Linked DNA regions of Homo sapiens: region 1 is linked to region 2. Evidence: fine-mapped expression QTL. A gene starts in region 2. The other region holds a variant in brackets. All regions are shown on one strand. Distances are from middle to middle. Region 1 overlaps LOC124901339 (a long non-coding RNA gene). Region 2 holds the start of OGFRL1 (opioid growth factor receptor like 1).

Evidence for each region. PIP is the estimated chance that this variant, and not a neighbour inherited with it, causes the effect.
Region 1: its variant is fine-mapped to the expression of OGFRL1 in whole blood (TOPMed, PIP above 0.99).

What each region holds. Positions count from the first base shown.
Region 1 is chr6:71,246,426-71,254,763 of GRCh38, reverse strand. It overlaps LOC124901339 (a long non-coding RNA gene), which reads left to right. Exons shown (of 6, transcript XR_007059640.1): 6 at 3,120-3,406. It also overlaps the pseudogene LOC100132834. Among named protein-coding and RNA genes, the nearest start is that of OGFRL1, 38 kb to the left of the region's middle. RefSeq lists a silencer at 3,022-3,289. The variant T/C (reference allele first, on the strand shown) is at 4,128.
Region 2 is chr6:71,283,992-71,292,329 of GRCh38, reverse strand. OGFRL1 (opioid growth factor receptor like 1) reads right to left here and starts at 3,519. Exons shown (of 7, transcript NM_024576.5): 1 at 3,160-3,519. The coding sequence starts at 3,393. LOC124901339 (a long non-coding RNA gene) reads left to right here. Exons shown (of 6, transcript XR_007059640.1): 4 at 7,390-7,470. RefSeq lists a silencer at 2,807-3,866.

The DNA.
Region 1 (8,338 bases), 38 kb after region 2:
CTTCTAAAAAGAAGAAAGTGTGATTTGCCCAGTCTCATCTCCTTCTGGGCAAAGATTGCACCATGGAATAATTCCTATACACTTACAGGTTGCATAGTTATTGGTGTCAAGAGAGTCCTCAGCAACAATGAGTCCCCAGGGTAGAAAGCAAAAGATCCTGCAGGGGCAGGAGGCAAGATATTGTCAGGTCATGTCCTTAGGTGACACGAGGGACCAAAGGCAGCTGCCACAGCAGGCCCCTTTCAGCAGCAGCGGCAGAAGCAGTGACCTGACTTCATCACCATGGGAACAGCAGCTGTCACTGCTAGATTCAGTCACTGCGGATCTGGGGTGGTTCATAAACTGAATCCCATGCAACTACTATTTTGGCAGATCTGGGAAATTGTCTTCTGGTACTTCAATTGTTTTATTTTGCTCATTCCCATTTTAAAGCTCCAAGAGCTCTTTCTTGATCTCTATTTATTCCTTTCTTGAGTATCCTATTCTTGATTTAAGGTCATGATACTTTCTCAAATATCCATGAGAACATTAGTTAGATTTTAAACGTTTTCTTCTATTAGGAGGCAGCCTGCCTAGTGATTAAGAGGATGGACTCTAAAGCCAGACAGCCTGGATTTGATTCTCAGCTCTGCTGTGGATTTACAACCTTGGGGAACTTGTCTGTGCCTTAGTTTTGATGGAGTTCAGGACACAGTACTCCAAAAGATGACATCTTGGCATAATGATTAAGAAAATGGCAGGAGCGGCAGAAAGGTCTCTCTGACCTGGAAGGAATTTTCTGACCTTCTGAAGCAGGTCCTAAAACTCTGATGTGAGAGGTACCCTCCCTATACCTGGGAGGAAGGAACATCCTGTCTTCAAAGATGAACACAGTGGCATCTGAACAAACAGGCCTTGCCAAGTTTCCACCAGTTTACTACACTTACCTCATACTCCACCTTATAGTATTTCTGCACAACTGTCCACACTTCTTCAAACCTGCTATAAAAACCACTCCCATTTCACATTTGAACGCTTTCTTCAGGTCTTCATTTCCTAATGAAGGCTCCTGTGTTACATAAAACTTATATGAAATAAATAGATGTGCTCTTCTCTTGTTAATCTGTCTTTTGTTACAGGGGCCCAACCAATAAACCTAAGATGGGTAGAAGGAAAAGGTATTTTTCTCCCCTACAGTTTCTTTTCTTTTTGTTTTTCTTTTGTTTTTTTTTGGTTGTGTGTTTCAAACAGATATAAAATACCTATTACACAAAAATTTAAAACTACCAATTTGTTAAACTTAGAAAAGATACTGATTTGTAACTAAAAAAAAAAAACCTTTACATTTTTATTTCTCAAGGTAGCTTACCTCTACTTTCTGAAAGTTGTAAAATTTTTGGTTTAAAAATTGTCACTCTATGATTGTCCCAATTTGTTTTTCTATGCCATGACAAAAACAAAATACTTTCAAAATGTTCTGAGCATTTAAATGAACATTTAAGTGTATGTAAATAAACTTATTTAAGTAACTTTTATGTTGGTAATAAACCAACACATGCATTAAATACCTCTTCAGCGTAAACAGGAAATACTGATGACGATGCCAGCATGGAACTGTCAATTCACATTACAGCACAATTAATAATCAATCTGACTAGTTTAGTGATATTTAAAGGACACAATTAGTCACTATATCTGCCAGAATAATTGAATATGTTAACATTCTCCTCGCGTAAATACCAATTTCATTATCTCATATCTTTCTCTTTACTCGTCTCCAGATAGCAATAGCCCTCCCTGTGTGGGTCATGTAGAAATGACCCAGAACTTGTTGGTCTAATATTTTCGGTCTAATTCTTTCCAACCTTTGGTAAACTTAGAAAGCCTGCAGGGATCTCATATTGATGATTTTCAATCTTTTAATTGTGATAGTCTTTTTGTTATTCTGTCTTTTCACCTTCCTTTGCCTGTCCATCTATAATTTTCAATTCAAGTTTATATCAGTCTCTTTCTTGAAACCTGGAGATTTCATCAGCCACAGATTTCCTTTTTTTTTTTTTTTTTTTTTTTTTTGCCTTTTCCTTTATTTCCTTTTCAAGCCTCAAAAATTCTTCCTGTTTTTACTTCTGCTGGGTATTACTTTCAGGTAGTAATTTTAGTTTACATTGACATTGATGGTTTTTTTGCCACTTTGTCTCTTTCTCTTCTTCCTCTTTTAGCTTCCTTAAAATATAAGCATATTTAATTGACACTTAAATATTTTTCTGTTTTTTCTAAGCTTCAATCACCAATTTGGTTTTTTTGCTCCTCTTTTTGCTTGTGATTACATTCTTGTTTACTTTGAGGAAGGACTGGCTTATCCTTCATCTTTCCCTTTAACTTGAAAGTATTCTCCCTGTTTGCTGTTTTTTAGTTTTCCAATTTTGAATAGATTTTTTTTCCTCTCTTCTAGAGTCAGACATTTTTAATGTATCTTTCATACTGTTGCACTTTATCCTGTGCTTTTCCAGGATGGTGTTGCAAAACTTTCCCTATATATCTTGTCTTCTTTTTATGTTTGTTTCTCATTTTTACAAAGTTCTGGTGATCACAATCATCCAGCACCCTTGACATCCTCCTGTTTACTGAAGGAATTTTGCAAAATCTACCATTTCTCCTGGAAGACTACTTTGTTGTATTCTGTCTACAGGAACTTTGCTTAACATTCCTCTGAAAGTTCTCCATGTTTCTAGTGACCCAAAGCCCATATGTCAATTTTCCTTGATACAGTATTCAACTAATTTTTGGCTATTTTCTTGTCTTTATTAAGCTTTTCATGTAATCAACCTCTGTTCTTTCTTAAAACTGTTTACTGTATTTTTAATTGCTTAGGTTCATTTCTCTGAGCTTTGCAACAAAATCAGGTGTAGGTGTCACACTTTATAACTGATGCTAAAGTCACTTTACATTGTTATATATTTTGAACAACTGTTATTGGGTTTTTGCTCTATTTTCCTGCTGATAATCAATTTATTTTCCAATTCTTTCAGCACACTGCCAAATTCTGAAGTTTTGTTGTTGTTGTTGTTGTAGAGATGACTCTATGTTAACAATTTGATTTTTAATTTTTACTGCTGTACATATGAACTTTGTTTTCTTAGTTTGAATAGCTCTCTGGTTCCAGTTTGAAGCTGAAAAGGTTAAATTCTACCTGAAGGATGAAAACAACCAACATTCTGTGCCAAGACAGTCAGGAGGGCAACCATGTTTCCTGGTGGAGCCTCTGGAACCACTCAAGCCAAGATGACCGGGGGTTTGGCTGGGAGGAGATGGGGAAACTACAGACCCTACAGATGGTTTCCTGTACCATGAGGTTAAGCCTGGGGGCAGGAGAGGCTGTACCTTAGTTCCTTCATCTGTAAAATAAAGTAACATAGTACCTACCTCATAAGGGTGTTCTAATGATTGAACTTATTATACGTAAACTTTGAACAGTTTGTGGCTCAGATTATTATTTCTAGTTTCTCAGATCAGTTTTTCTGTATTTTGACCTTGCTTATTCTTTTGAATGCTGCTGACAGTTCTCACATTTCTCTTTATCCTTTGTTGTCCAGCCAGGTTTTAAAAAGAAGGTGTAGATCACTAGGGTTTCTTTCCTCTGCTGTTGCATGAGTAGGATTATTTTCCTTCTAGGTCTCTGTAAGAAGAGTTTTGACCGAGAACTTCATGCACTCTGTTGAAATGGAGCACATCTGCTATAAAACTTCACTTTAGGGGCTGATGAGCAGGAACTGAATGTCAAGCTATAGATCCCTAAATAAGGTTGGCTTTCATATGCCCTATATCCTTTTCAAGATTTCAGTTAATAGGGCATTAAATGGGAGTAGTGATGATACACTAAAGTGGTAGATATTGTGAAAAGAATGTATAGAGTACAATAAAATCTTTACATAAGTTCTGCACTTGACAAGGGAGAAGAATCAATTGCTTAATTAAAAGTGAAATGTTTTTATCACTTTGAGATAATGCCCTAGGATGATTTTGAAAGTGACATGTAGTTGACTCTCTAGAATTGAGAGTAATTCTAGAATCATTATGATATTTTTTTGTGCATCCTTTAATTTTATTTAATAGGACAATAGATTTTTATTTCCCCCAGGCCGAGGCAA[T/C]GGAGTATCTTTGAGTAATCTGCAAGCTGGTCCAAAGGGAATAACAAAGGAGGAAATATTCTTCGTAAACAAGCCCTGCAACCCAAAAGTGGAGTAAGAATTTCCTGTCCCAGTCTTAGGAGATGGTCAAAAGCTCTGCATATTTCTCCACTGAATTAGATTTCATAACTTCCTGTGATGTCATTTGCTATTTTTCCCCTGGCTTGAGTTAGGACTTCCCTTTCAGAGTTTTGTCAACCCAGTTTTCTTTAGACCACTTTAGAAGCAAGAATATCTACTACAGATTCATGAAAAGAGCACTGAATAAGAAGTTAGGATAAGTGGATTTCTAAGGCCAATTTTCCTTCTTACAATTTGACTTCAGAAACGAGTACTCATACCAAGCTCACATTTCCTAAATAATTCACATTCTTGAAAGGTAGAAAGAGCTGTCTTACGAAATGGTGTGTTTCCTGTCATTGAAAGTATGCCAAAAGATGCTTGAAAACCACTTCTTAAGACTCTTGTGCAATTTTCATATAATAAGATTAGACTTGATGGTTCTATAAAAAAAACTCTCTGAATCTTGAAACTCAATGATTCTGTGCTTTAGTTCTATGAAGAGAAGAGAAGCAGGGAGGGAATGATGAAGGGATCTAGCATATCTATTCAGCCTTGTGTGGATTTCAGCCTTGGTCTCTGGAGATGCTTCAAGCTTCCTAAAGTGGTACTTCTGCCTGTCCATTCTGACTCCATCCTTAGATACCCACTTTCTGATCCAAAATAAGCATGTCCATATGAATATGTTTAAGTCAGAGGCAGCTAGATGTGTACCCATAACTGGAGGGTGGCTAACCAGTGCAAACATAGATTTCTTTACATTCTTATTCTTCTTTTTAAAAATCTTATGACTTTTAAATTGTATCTCATAATACCTCTGTTCTAACATAAGATAATATTTTAAATTATCAATTATTGGCGGTGATGAACTTGCCCCAATCCATCTATGCAGATGTTTCTTCCTATGCACAGGGCAAATGCATTTAGTTTAAGAAGCTCAGGGCAACACATTTGACTGGCACACTGGATTCAGGTTTATTATCCATGGTCTTCTCACATCTTTGGAGTCTGTCTTTGCAAGACCCACCCCCTCCATCATACCAGGTCCCCATCTAATATGGAAGGAGGAATCTAATGATAGGAGAGGTTCATGGTGTTGTTTAAATAGCCCCCTCTCAGCTCATTCAAGCAGCTCTTCTCAGTCGACTCTGAACTGCTTACAATGACACATTATAGTAGAATTATTTCAGAGACCTTTTTCAACTCAATCTGGGTGTGCCTCATTGAGCTAATAAAATCCTCACCCCTGAGAAATGGTGTAATATGTGTTACATTTTGCTACAATTCATGATATGTCTTTGGAGAAGAATTGTACATTTTATATAATTTGTCAAGGACAATTTCAAAATGCATAACATCATCAATCTCACTGACAACATCGCTAATGGCTTCACTCAGTAGTCAGAGTTTTGCCAAATGCAAGCTAAGACTCAGGCCATCACACACCTGCTCCCAGCCTATTGTTTCAGATGTATCATCTGTTGAAAAGTTAACAGAGTAGGAAAAGAATTCATCCTTGAAGCATTTCCCCTCTAATTAAGTCAACAGATGCTGTTTGAAGTCTATACCTGGGGAATTTATTACTTCAGTTTTAAAAAGTAAGAGAAATTCACAGATCTGCCTTCATAATAATTGTGTTTTTTTTTTATCAAGGTCACCAGCCTAGTAATAACTGATAGTAGTCAAGAATTTGTGATGGTTGTCATTTTCAAAAACATTGGAATGACATTTTCCAAAAGTGCTTTCATTTGAATTATCATCTGGGCTTTATTGCTCCTGGGCTGGGCTCTCCCTCTCTTGGCGGGAGGCTAGACAGAGCTAGCCTTGCTCAAATGGGCTTAAGGGGTTGGGGGAGGTGGCAGGAAGTAGCTCTCAGGACCTTAATGGTTGGATGGAGGCAGACAGCAAACAGTGAAGTCAGAGGTCAAAGTCAGAAATGCATAGCTAAACCAGTCACCAGGGCAGAAACATCCTGAGGCATGCAACAGTTAACTGGTACAGCCTGTGAGTCAAAGAGCCAGTGAAAATGAGAACATGCTCCTTCTGCAAGGAGAAGTAAGCAAGATGGTATTCTTGGGAAATAGCCAAGAAGATGAGCTCTTGCTGTCTGCTGAAGTGTGAGAAGCCATGACAAAAGTGACACCCAGTGACCTGTGTAGGCTTTAGTTTCTTTATGTGTTTCCTGGTCTCCTTGCCTAATATGGGTATGGAAAAGATCACATTCAATCTTATATGTGAAGTCTAATATATTATCATCATTGTAATTGTTAAAATTTGTTTTACAATTAAGAAATAGATGGAAAGATAGATAACCTAAGAAAAACTAAAAAACAAAAAACAAACAAACAAAAAAAACAGCTGCATAAGAATATTTTCCTTTTGTGGCAGAACAAAATAGGGCCAAACATTTTGGTGTGCTGTTTTCTTTCAATTTAGTCTGTTCTTGTTAGTTTCTGATCAAAGTACTTACTTAGCATTCATGATTGCTAACATTTGTGATAATTATAATTTATGAGCAAATTATCTATTGTTACCATGACAGTCCTGGTATTTTCACAGATCAAAATTTATATACAAGAAAAAAAATCCTAACATGAAAGAATTAGATTTTTTTTAACACCAGGTCTCAAATTACCCACCTACTTTGACAGTTCTAGTGTCTTGATTGAATATTTTATGATGATACTACTTAAGATAAAAATGTAAAAGCTAATTTATAGTGACATCTCTTTATGGAAAAGGTCCCCAAGCTGATTTATTACCAGGTTGAAACATGTCAGTGAATACAAACATTTCTAAGGTAAAGAGACTTTTCAATTTTCTTTCACACTCTGTCATACAGCTTCAGCTAAATAATTTATATGAAAAACAGGGTATTTTAATTTTACAATATGCCACTTTATTTTCCTATGATATCTCTTTTAGTTTTATTCTTCAATTCGATTTGATACCTGCTATGTTCTGTACTGAGTAATAAATTTGGAAGCTATTCCCAATTATAATTCATTTTGATACCTGCACATTTGAGGGAACATAATGCCAAAGATTCAAACTTAGTTCTTCTCAGACTAGATTCTTTACTTATCACCCTCTATTCAGCAACAAAGTAGGTAATCAGTTGCCAAATTGATGCTGTTTTTCCAGTTTTCTAACTGTCTCTGCCATCCTGATTTCGTCTCCTGTTAAATTTATTACGTTATGTCATTCTGAAAGGAATTTAGAGAAAGTACACACATATATAAAATTATTTAATCATATTTTTGGTTGAGGAAGAAGGGGTTAAGGGACTATGTCTAATGATTTACTTACAGTTCTATAGAACTATTCACTAATACAATTAATAAAATAATGCACCGTAATTATAATATAATTTAAATATTCAGGAGCTCTGGGTAGTGATAGATGAATATAATTGCTGAGGTTTAAAAGGATTTTTATAAGTGAATTCATTTCAAGGATTATTAAAGGGCAAACAGATGACATGAGATTTTATATTGGTGGTAGTTTGTGTTACAGGAGCATTAGTGGTATTGTAAAGTAAGAAAGAGAAGATGAAGCCAGGAAGGTGCTATAAGCAGGACAAAGAAGAAACAGCAAAGGAAGCACAAGCTGAAGAGGAAACTGCTTATGGCTTAGCGCAATATCTTCTGGGACAGTGCATGATACAGGAGGTGGCAGTGACAGTAGTTCAGTGGGAAAGAAAGATGTGTTTGGTGACAGCATTTTGGTGAGAGGAAACAGGAGAAAATAGGGAAAAGATTAAGGGCAGAGAGAGACCAGATGGTGATCATAATGAGCCAAAACCCAAAAATGTCATGGACTCAAACCTTAGCCGTAGAGACCCAATGAAATGGAAAATTAACAAAAATAGAAAAAATATAATTTATTTTCATAATTTAATGTATTTGCATCATATCTTATCAAAAAGTATTTGAGGTGAATTATTGAAAGAGAAGATGTTTATTATAAGATTAATAAAACAGAACCAAAAGAGGAAGGGGCAGCATATGGCAACCATAAACATCAGCAGAGCGGCTGTGTGTGAGCAGATACCCTAGAGCTTCCTCCTAGCCCTGATGAAGAGGGAAACTTTTTAAATCATAAAACATTCA
Region 2 (8,338 bases):
TGATTCTCACTATTACTACAAGTACCGAGTTACTTCAACATCAAATCTTCTGATGCTTAACATTAGTTACGCTGTCATGTTACATAAGCAAGGAAAAGCTTGAATTCTGGTCCTTGCCACACGTTTCAAAATAGCTCTGCCTAGCAAGTTTCTGAATCTATTTAGCCTGAGATACAACCATATGAATCATCATCCTACATTTGTATAGAAGGCACTCTCCATTTACAAAGCACTTACATATATAGCGAATAGACAACAAACAGGGTTGACAGTCAAAAGGCATTATTTCATTTGATTCTTAAAACACACCTGATTGACAGTTAATAAGTGTTTCCATCTTAGAAACAAGATATCAGGGGCTTAGAGAAGTTGCACACCACCCAGAGTCCAGTGACAGTGCAAGAACAAGAATCCCAGGCTCTGGGTCCCAAGTCCAGGTCTGAATCAATCTCAGTCACACTAAAAAATGAAGGATATATGGAAACCTTGGTGTAGTATCAGTAGCCCAAGACTTGGAGTCAGAAGACTAGCAATCTGAACGCTGCTTACTTGTATTTGTGAGGCCTTAAGCAAATCATTTAGCTGAATCTTAGTTTTATCATCTCTGAAATAAAGATAATGACTCAAGCCCTACCTATTTCTCAGGATTATCATAAGAATGTCTGTGTCCTGCCAGCATCTGCTCCTGCTCTTCCAACCCCTATTCCCTTTGGACTCTCTACCCAGACCCCTTTCACCTGCTCAGACAAGGATTCTGTTGTTCAATATTGTTCCTCTTTCCTGGATCATCAAAATTTCCCTCTCTTCTCGATCTCAAACAAACATGCTGTAGTATCTTTAATCTTAAAATAAACATACAAAACATTCCTTGACCCAGGCCTACCATCAATTACAGATCCATATATCTACTCCTTTTTTATAGCAAATCACCACCAAAGAATTGCCCATACTTTGTTTCCTTCTTTTCTTTCCCCATTTTCCCCTGACCCACCTCAATCAGGCTTTTGTCCTCAGCACTCCAACAAAATAGTTCTTGTGAACTTCACCAATAAGTCTCCATCTTGCCAAACCATTTCTTAATGTTCACCTCAGGTGACCTCCCAACAGAACTGGGCCAATTAAAGCATCCCTCCTTCCTGAAACACTGTCAGTATTTGGCTTACAGGCTACTATAACTTTCTTAGTTTACTTTCTGTCTCATTGGGCTCCCCTTGTCAGCCTCCTTTTTTGGCTCCTCCTCCTCTTCATACCCTCTAAATGGAGGGGTGCCTAAGGTCCTCAGTCGTCATCACTCCTTGATAACCCCTTATCTTCCCATGCCTTTAAATACCATTGATCTCAGATGCTGAGGACTCTAGTCCTGGACTGTCTCCATTCATAGATGTAATTTAACTACCCAACAAATGATTAACTACCCAACAACTCTACTTGGATGTGTAATAGGATATCAAACTCAAGAGAATCGTTGATTTAACCTCCATAGCTGCATTCTCCCTAGACTTCCCTGTCTTGGTTAATGTCACCATCATTTGTTCAGTATTCAGAGGGACTAGGATGATGCAATGGAAGTGGTGTGAAGGAGTCAGTCTGGGATACGCTTTAAAAGTAGCTCCAGTATTACCTGCAAGTGGATTGACTCTGAGGAATAGACAACAAATAGGGTTGGCAGTCAAAAGGCAAAATTGAAAAGCAGATTTTTTGGGGAAGTCAGATGGTGATACTAACAAGAAAAATTAATCATTAAAAGGGAATAGGGAGGGCTGGTGTAGTCTACTAGTTACTGGGGTTGCAGTTAACTGACTGAACATTATTAAAATGTTTTATATAGATGGACCTGGTTAGTTGGATTGAATCTTAGCTGGTGTTTTTTGATATTCCAAATTTCTGTAGGAGGTTACTTAATTGGGAGACAAACGTAAGGGAAAAACATGAGAATGCAGCATCTAATAATTTAATAAGATTGAATTAGCAATGCAAAACAACAGCGGCAAACCAGACACAGGGGCAGATGGAAATTCAGAATTCCACAGGTCCAAGGCGCTGATATCAGTGATAGATAGACTTGGGTTTGCATCATCCTCTCCCTCAGTGATCTTGGGCAAGTTTTCCTTTCTCTCTAAGCCTCAGTTTTCTCTAAAATGGAGACCACACAGCAAACACCCACCCCAAAATTGTAGTTCATTTAAATAACACGTTTAACACAGAGCCTGCACTAAGACTTTATGATTTCCTCCTTACCTAAATAGAATTGATCATCAAGATGGCTGAGGCGGTGTTAGCTGTAATATTTAGGTTATGATTCCCCCAAAACCCTGTGGTCACATTGGACTTTGGGCTCCATTTTCCCAATCTCCATCGCCCCTAGCTGATAAAGAGAAGGGCCTAATGTGGAGCGGCAAACCTGAACCACCTCCAGGATGCACACTTCTTCAGGGGGTCGGCTACATATTTCCTCCTTTTTAAAGTTCCTGATTATTTTCAGTCCATCAGAGGTTAAGGGGCTTATCTCTTGACTAACCTCTCCTCCAAGCTGTATTAGTCAAACAGTTCAAACACAGTTGGATCAACAAGTCTTCTGGTGAAATAAGATTCGTGAAGAATGCCCTGAATCCTAGGTTGAAAGGCCTGAGTTGGGCAGAACAGTGACGTATGAACTTCAGATGAGGGCCTACACTTCTGACGGCTTAGACCCCACTGTAGGGGAGAGCGCTGGCTGCTTGCACTTGTAGCCCCACCTTATTCTGAGTAATTTTTTTTTTTTTTTTTTTTTTTTTTTTTTTTACCAATAACACACACTAGAGGGGTTGTCAAAATCCTCTATTTTTAGACAGGTTCCTCCCACCCCACCTTCGCATAATCCAGCTGCTCTGCAGAGGCAAAGAAAACACCCATTCAAGTTGGGTTCTGCCTTGAGGGACTTCCTCGCCGTGCCCTCGGCCAGGCCCCAGGCCGGCAGTGGGAGGGTCCGGCGCTTTGGGCTCCTGCAGGCCCCCGGGCTCCACCGGGAGACAGGTCAGCCGCGGCGCGGAGGGGTCGGGTCGCAGCGGCGAGCAGCCACCTGGCGCCCCTGGCCTCCGAGCGCGAGGGCGGCTTGGCACTTGCCCCTCTGGGGTGTCGGGGCGCCCCAGCCCGACCCGAGGCCACCGCTGGGCCGCGTACCTGCTCGGCGCCCGCCGCCTCGGCGTCCTCGTCCGGCGCGGGGCTGGCGCCGGGCCGCCCGCCGGCTTGCTCCGGGGGCTGCGCGGGCTGCTCGGACTCCTGCCCCGGGCCCTCGCTGCCGCCGCCCGGCCCTGGTTCTTCGGGCTCGGGCTCCGAGTCGGTCTGCCAGGTGGAGTCGCAGTCCTCCACGGTGGTGGGCTCGCGGAAGCTGACCCCGCCGAGCAGGTTGCCCATTGAAGAGGCGGCGGCGGGCGCGGGGCTGCGGGGCTGCGGGGCGCAAGCTGCGGCAGGCGCTCTAGGGCCCGGGCATGGCCGCGGCGAGGGCGCTGGGCGGCAGCCTAGGCGCGCCCGCCCCGCACTGCCTCAGCGCGGCGAGCGGCGGACAGGCACCCTCGCGGGGAGGAGCCGGCGGCCCCGGGACCGCCGCCGCGCGCGCCTGAACCCGCCCATCCGGCTCCTTCTCCTCCCCACAGGCGGGAGCTGCCGCCGCCCAGAGCCCCCAGGGGAGCCAACTGCGGCCCCCAGCCGAGCGCCACCGGCCCCAGGCCGCGCCTCCCTTCCACGTTTCTCCCCGGAACACCTGCCTTCACGCGGCCCCCGGCGGCCCCCGGAGTGGATTGGGGTCGGCTACTACCCTCGCCGCCCGGAGCCGGGGGACGCCCTCCCGGGGCATCTCCCAGCTGAGCGGGATGAGGGATCCCGCCCAGCTCCTGGAGCTGAGGACTGGCGTGGACGTGGTGTCGAAGAGGTGTCACCGTCAGCAGGCGGGTCCTGTCCACACCCCCTCCCCCTCTCCCTGGTCCAGGAGGAAGACACTTTAGCTGCAGCAGAGGACAAAAGCTGATGGTGCCGGGCACCATATAAACAGGAAATCCCAGCTGCCACAACTGTACTTAGGGCAGCCACCTAGAGTCCTTGTGGTCTAGAAAAAGTCAGAGCTATCAGTCACCTCATCTAATGAGCAATCGCTCGTGAAACAAAAGGAACAGTAACAACTGGACCATCACATTGATTTGCGGGTAACCTTACACCCACTACAAATTGGTGCTCCGTGTAGGCAAAAATCTCAGAATCAGTAGAACAGATGGGCTGTTTCTAATGGAAGAAGCCTCGGCCCTGTGGTCTGTTCTGCAAATGAAAGGAGGAGGGAGAACTGTGTTAGGGAAGTTCTTTCTTTTTTCTGTTCTGTTCTGTTCTGTTCTGTTCTGTTCTGTTCTGTTCTGTTCTGTTCTGTTCTGTTGTTCTGTTCTTTCTTTTCTTTCTTTTTGAGACAGAGTCTCCCTCTGTTGCCCAGGCTGCAGTGCAGAGGCGCGATCTCGGCTCACTGCAACCTCCGCCTCCTGGTTTCAAGCAATTCTCCTGCCTCAGCCTCCCAATAGCTGGGATTACAGGCATAAGCCTATAGAAGTACGTAAAGATAAGGTAGTATTATCAAATATGTGACCCAGAGAAAAGTGACTGTTGTAAAATGTGTCTTCTGGCTTTCTAACTAGAAGGGAAGCCTCTTTGCAGGCAGCCCCCGTCTGAAAGTGTGTCTGTATTTACAGTGCTGTCAACTTGGTGGATGCTCAGTAAACATTTGTTAAATATGGACTAAGAAAGATGAGCTAGATATTTGAAGATTAAACTGTTGAACTTGGAATGAATAGTTTCTTTTCAAATGTTTCATGATGAAGTAGGAAGCCAAATCATGTTAGATGGACTGTTTCTAAGGGAAGAATCAGGTAAACCAGCTGCCTATTCCATGGATAAATCAGGATTACCTAAGCTCTTCATGCACTGCAACAAGACATCTAGGCTGTAGCTCTGTCACTAATCAGTTTCTGACTTTAAGTAGGTCACATGAACCTAAACTTCCTCATTTGTAAAATGAAACCAGATCTCTGGGAGCCCTTCCAGCTCTGACCTTCTGTGATCCTATGACTGGGAAAAGCTCTGAAACTAATAAGAAATAGACACGGGGTGCACAAAAAGACTTTTGGGGCCGGGTGCGGTGGCTCACGCCTGTAATCCCAGAACTTTGGGAGGCCGAGGCGGGCAGATCACCTGAGGTCAGATGTTCAAGACCAGCCTGGCCAACATGACGAAACCTCATCTCCACAAAAAAATATAAAAATTAGCCTGGCTTGGTGGCGGGCGCCTGTAATCCCAGCTACTTGGGAGGCTGAGGCACGAGAATCACTTGAACGCGGGAGGTGGAGGTTGCAGTGAGCTGAGATCAGGCCACTGCACTCCAGCCTGGGCGACAGAGTGAGACTCCATTGCCCCCACCCCCCGCCAAAAAAAATACTTTTTGATTATAATGGCTTAGCAGAAGAAGATGTGGGGCAGCCACATACCACAGGAATCCAACTGCTCAAAGCTGGGAATTCGATTTTCCGTTGGTAGAAGACCGGAACACATTGCAGAAGTAGATATTGTCCATCCAGCCTTAAGTGTTCCGAGATTGTTGATGTGGAAAGTCTAAGGATAGTTGTTGTGTCCCAGGCGCTCCATCTGTTGGTTTAGGTGTATGTAGATTAAAGTTGGCCACATGTTCTTTGCTCTCTTCCCATTGAGAAGTAGTCTTATTCCTTACTCTTGAAGGAGCTGGCCTCAGTGACTTGCTTAACTATAGAATATGAAAGAAGTGATAGTCCAGGATTTTCTAAGTTAAGCCATAAGGAACCTTGCATTTTCCACTGGGTCTCTTGGAATATTCTCTCTGTTAGCCCCATGCTGCCATGTAAAAAGTTCAGCTAGCTTGAGACTGCCATACTCCTAGAAAGGCCACTTGTGTGTGGCCTCTGGTCATCCTCTGGTCATGGTACCAGCTGAGGCCTACCTTCCAGTATCCCCTGCTGGATTCCACGTTTTTGTTTTTTTTTTTTTATTGAATCCTCCAGACCAACCCATCCACCATCTGAATACCTTTCAGTGACCTCCATCGACCCTACTTGGAATAAAGGGACTACCCAGCAAAGCCCTGCTCAGATTTCTGACCCACAGAAGAGTGAAATGCAATAAAATGGCTGTTGCTTTAGGTCACTAAATTTTGTAGTAGTTTGTTATACATCAGTAGATGATGGAATGGTGAGAAGTATCTGTGTTTGTGCATATAAACATTTAAGTAACTACTGCAATTAAATCCTTCCCTTTTACACCACCTTTTGAAAAATGTGTCAATTTTTATAGGACCATAGATGATATGCCAGATTTTGCAATATATTTTCTAAAGAACATAATTTTACATGAAGCGTAACACCAACCTTATATAATATTTAATCAATTTTAAGTTTAGAGCAATAAGCACGACCACATTGTGCCCAATCTATGTGTTATTTTTACAAGTTAATGCTGAAGTTCTGTCATCCCAAGCTTCTATACACAGGAATTATCCTTCTCGAATACCTAAACTTTTTTCATTATCCCTGCCTTGCAGAGTATTTAACATTCCTGCATCAACAGTAAAGAAGGGTACCTTTGCTTCATATAAAAATCATCACTTAGCTCAGTGCCAGGCATCTATTAATTTATCAATATATGTTAGCTGTAATGATGATTCATTCAATATGTCTTTAAAGAACATATAATTCAACAGTAATATACACATGTATGGAACAAGGAGAAACTATTATCACAATGGACTATAATATAGTTTCTGACTCCCTGTAAATAGAATCTGCTCTAAATTAAGCAGATGCTATAGCCATGCTTCAATATAACTCTGTTTTCAACTTCGTTATGAAATCCTTTAAGGGTGAGGCCATTTTACAAAGGACAAAGAAACTGGTGCTTCAGGAACTAAACTTTTTTGGATGAAACCCAAATGTATCTGGCATATCTTGAATTGTCTTTTATAGTCAATCCTGTTTTAGGGACATTAACAAAGGTTTATTATTACATAATTTGAGAGTCTTTCAAATAAAAGGAAAGGGCAGATCAAGGGCCATTTTCCCCAACCTCAGGAGTTAACTCCTCAGTACCTCACAGGAACCTGAAATCTTTGGAGGAAAAAAAAATAGTATTATTTTAAAAATTAAAAATAATAAAGATGGCTCTCTAAAGAAACATCTGAAATTAGTAGTAACATGCTGTAATATTATTTTCCATTGACTGTAGCCAAGGGCCTCTGCTAGCACCCATGAGAACTTTGTGTTCTTGAGAATAAGACACCTTTGCTCCAGGGCTTAGTGAGCAGGGCCTGAACTGGAGTTCCCTCCCACCACCTTAACTGAACTCTTCATGCAGGACACAGCATGTACAACCTCACATAGAGTTCCTGACCAGACAAGACTTGCTGGAAATTTCCCAGGATCTTCCTTCCTTAAGGTAGGAGTTTATAATAGGTTATAATTTATGAAAACAAAATATTTTTTCCTCCTTCCTCCCTGCAAATATTCTATACTTTTTGTATGATTCTGAGATATCTTCTCCTGTATCCTTGCCAACCACTAACATCACCATAGCCCCTCTTACAAAAATCTTTCTTTCTTTTTGGACAATGCAATTGTGCAATTCAGTGTTTTTCTGCATGTTTCTTTTATCTTTCTAAGGCTTGTTGCAAAAATATCTCTGCTGTCCATTACCTCTTCCTTAATATTCTTTCTTCTTATTCTTCTCAAAGAAATGACCAGCAATTAAAGCAATTCCTGTATACCAAAAACAAAGCTTTCAAGGTTGTTTTAAATGGGATACAGAAATAAACACACATACGTCTAATTTCAACTAAACTGAACTTGTAGTAGCAAAGAGATTTCTGCATTTTTTTTTCTTTTGAGATGGAGTCTCGCTCTGTCACCCAGGCTGGAGTGCAATGGCTCAATCTCAGCTCACTGCAACCTCCGCCTCCTGGGTTCAAGTGATTCTCCTGCCTCAGCCTCCCAAGTATCTGAGACTACAGGCATGCGCCACCATGCCTGGCTAATTTTTGTATTTTTAGCAGAGACGGGGTTTTGCCATGTTGGCCAGGCTGGTCTTGAAACCCTGACCTCAGGTGATCCACACAGTTCGGCCTCCCAAAGTGCTGGGATTACAGGTGTGAGCCACCGCGCCCAGCCTGCATTTTTTATTATAGATATAAAGGGTCAAATATTTTACTATCAAATATTGGTAACAAATGAATTGAATTCCCTCACTGGCACCTAAACTGCTGCCAAGACTCTTCTGAACCCGTGTGGTCTTCCAAATCTTATATATC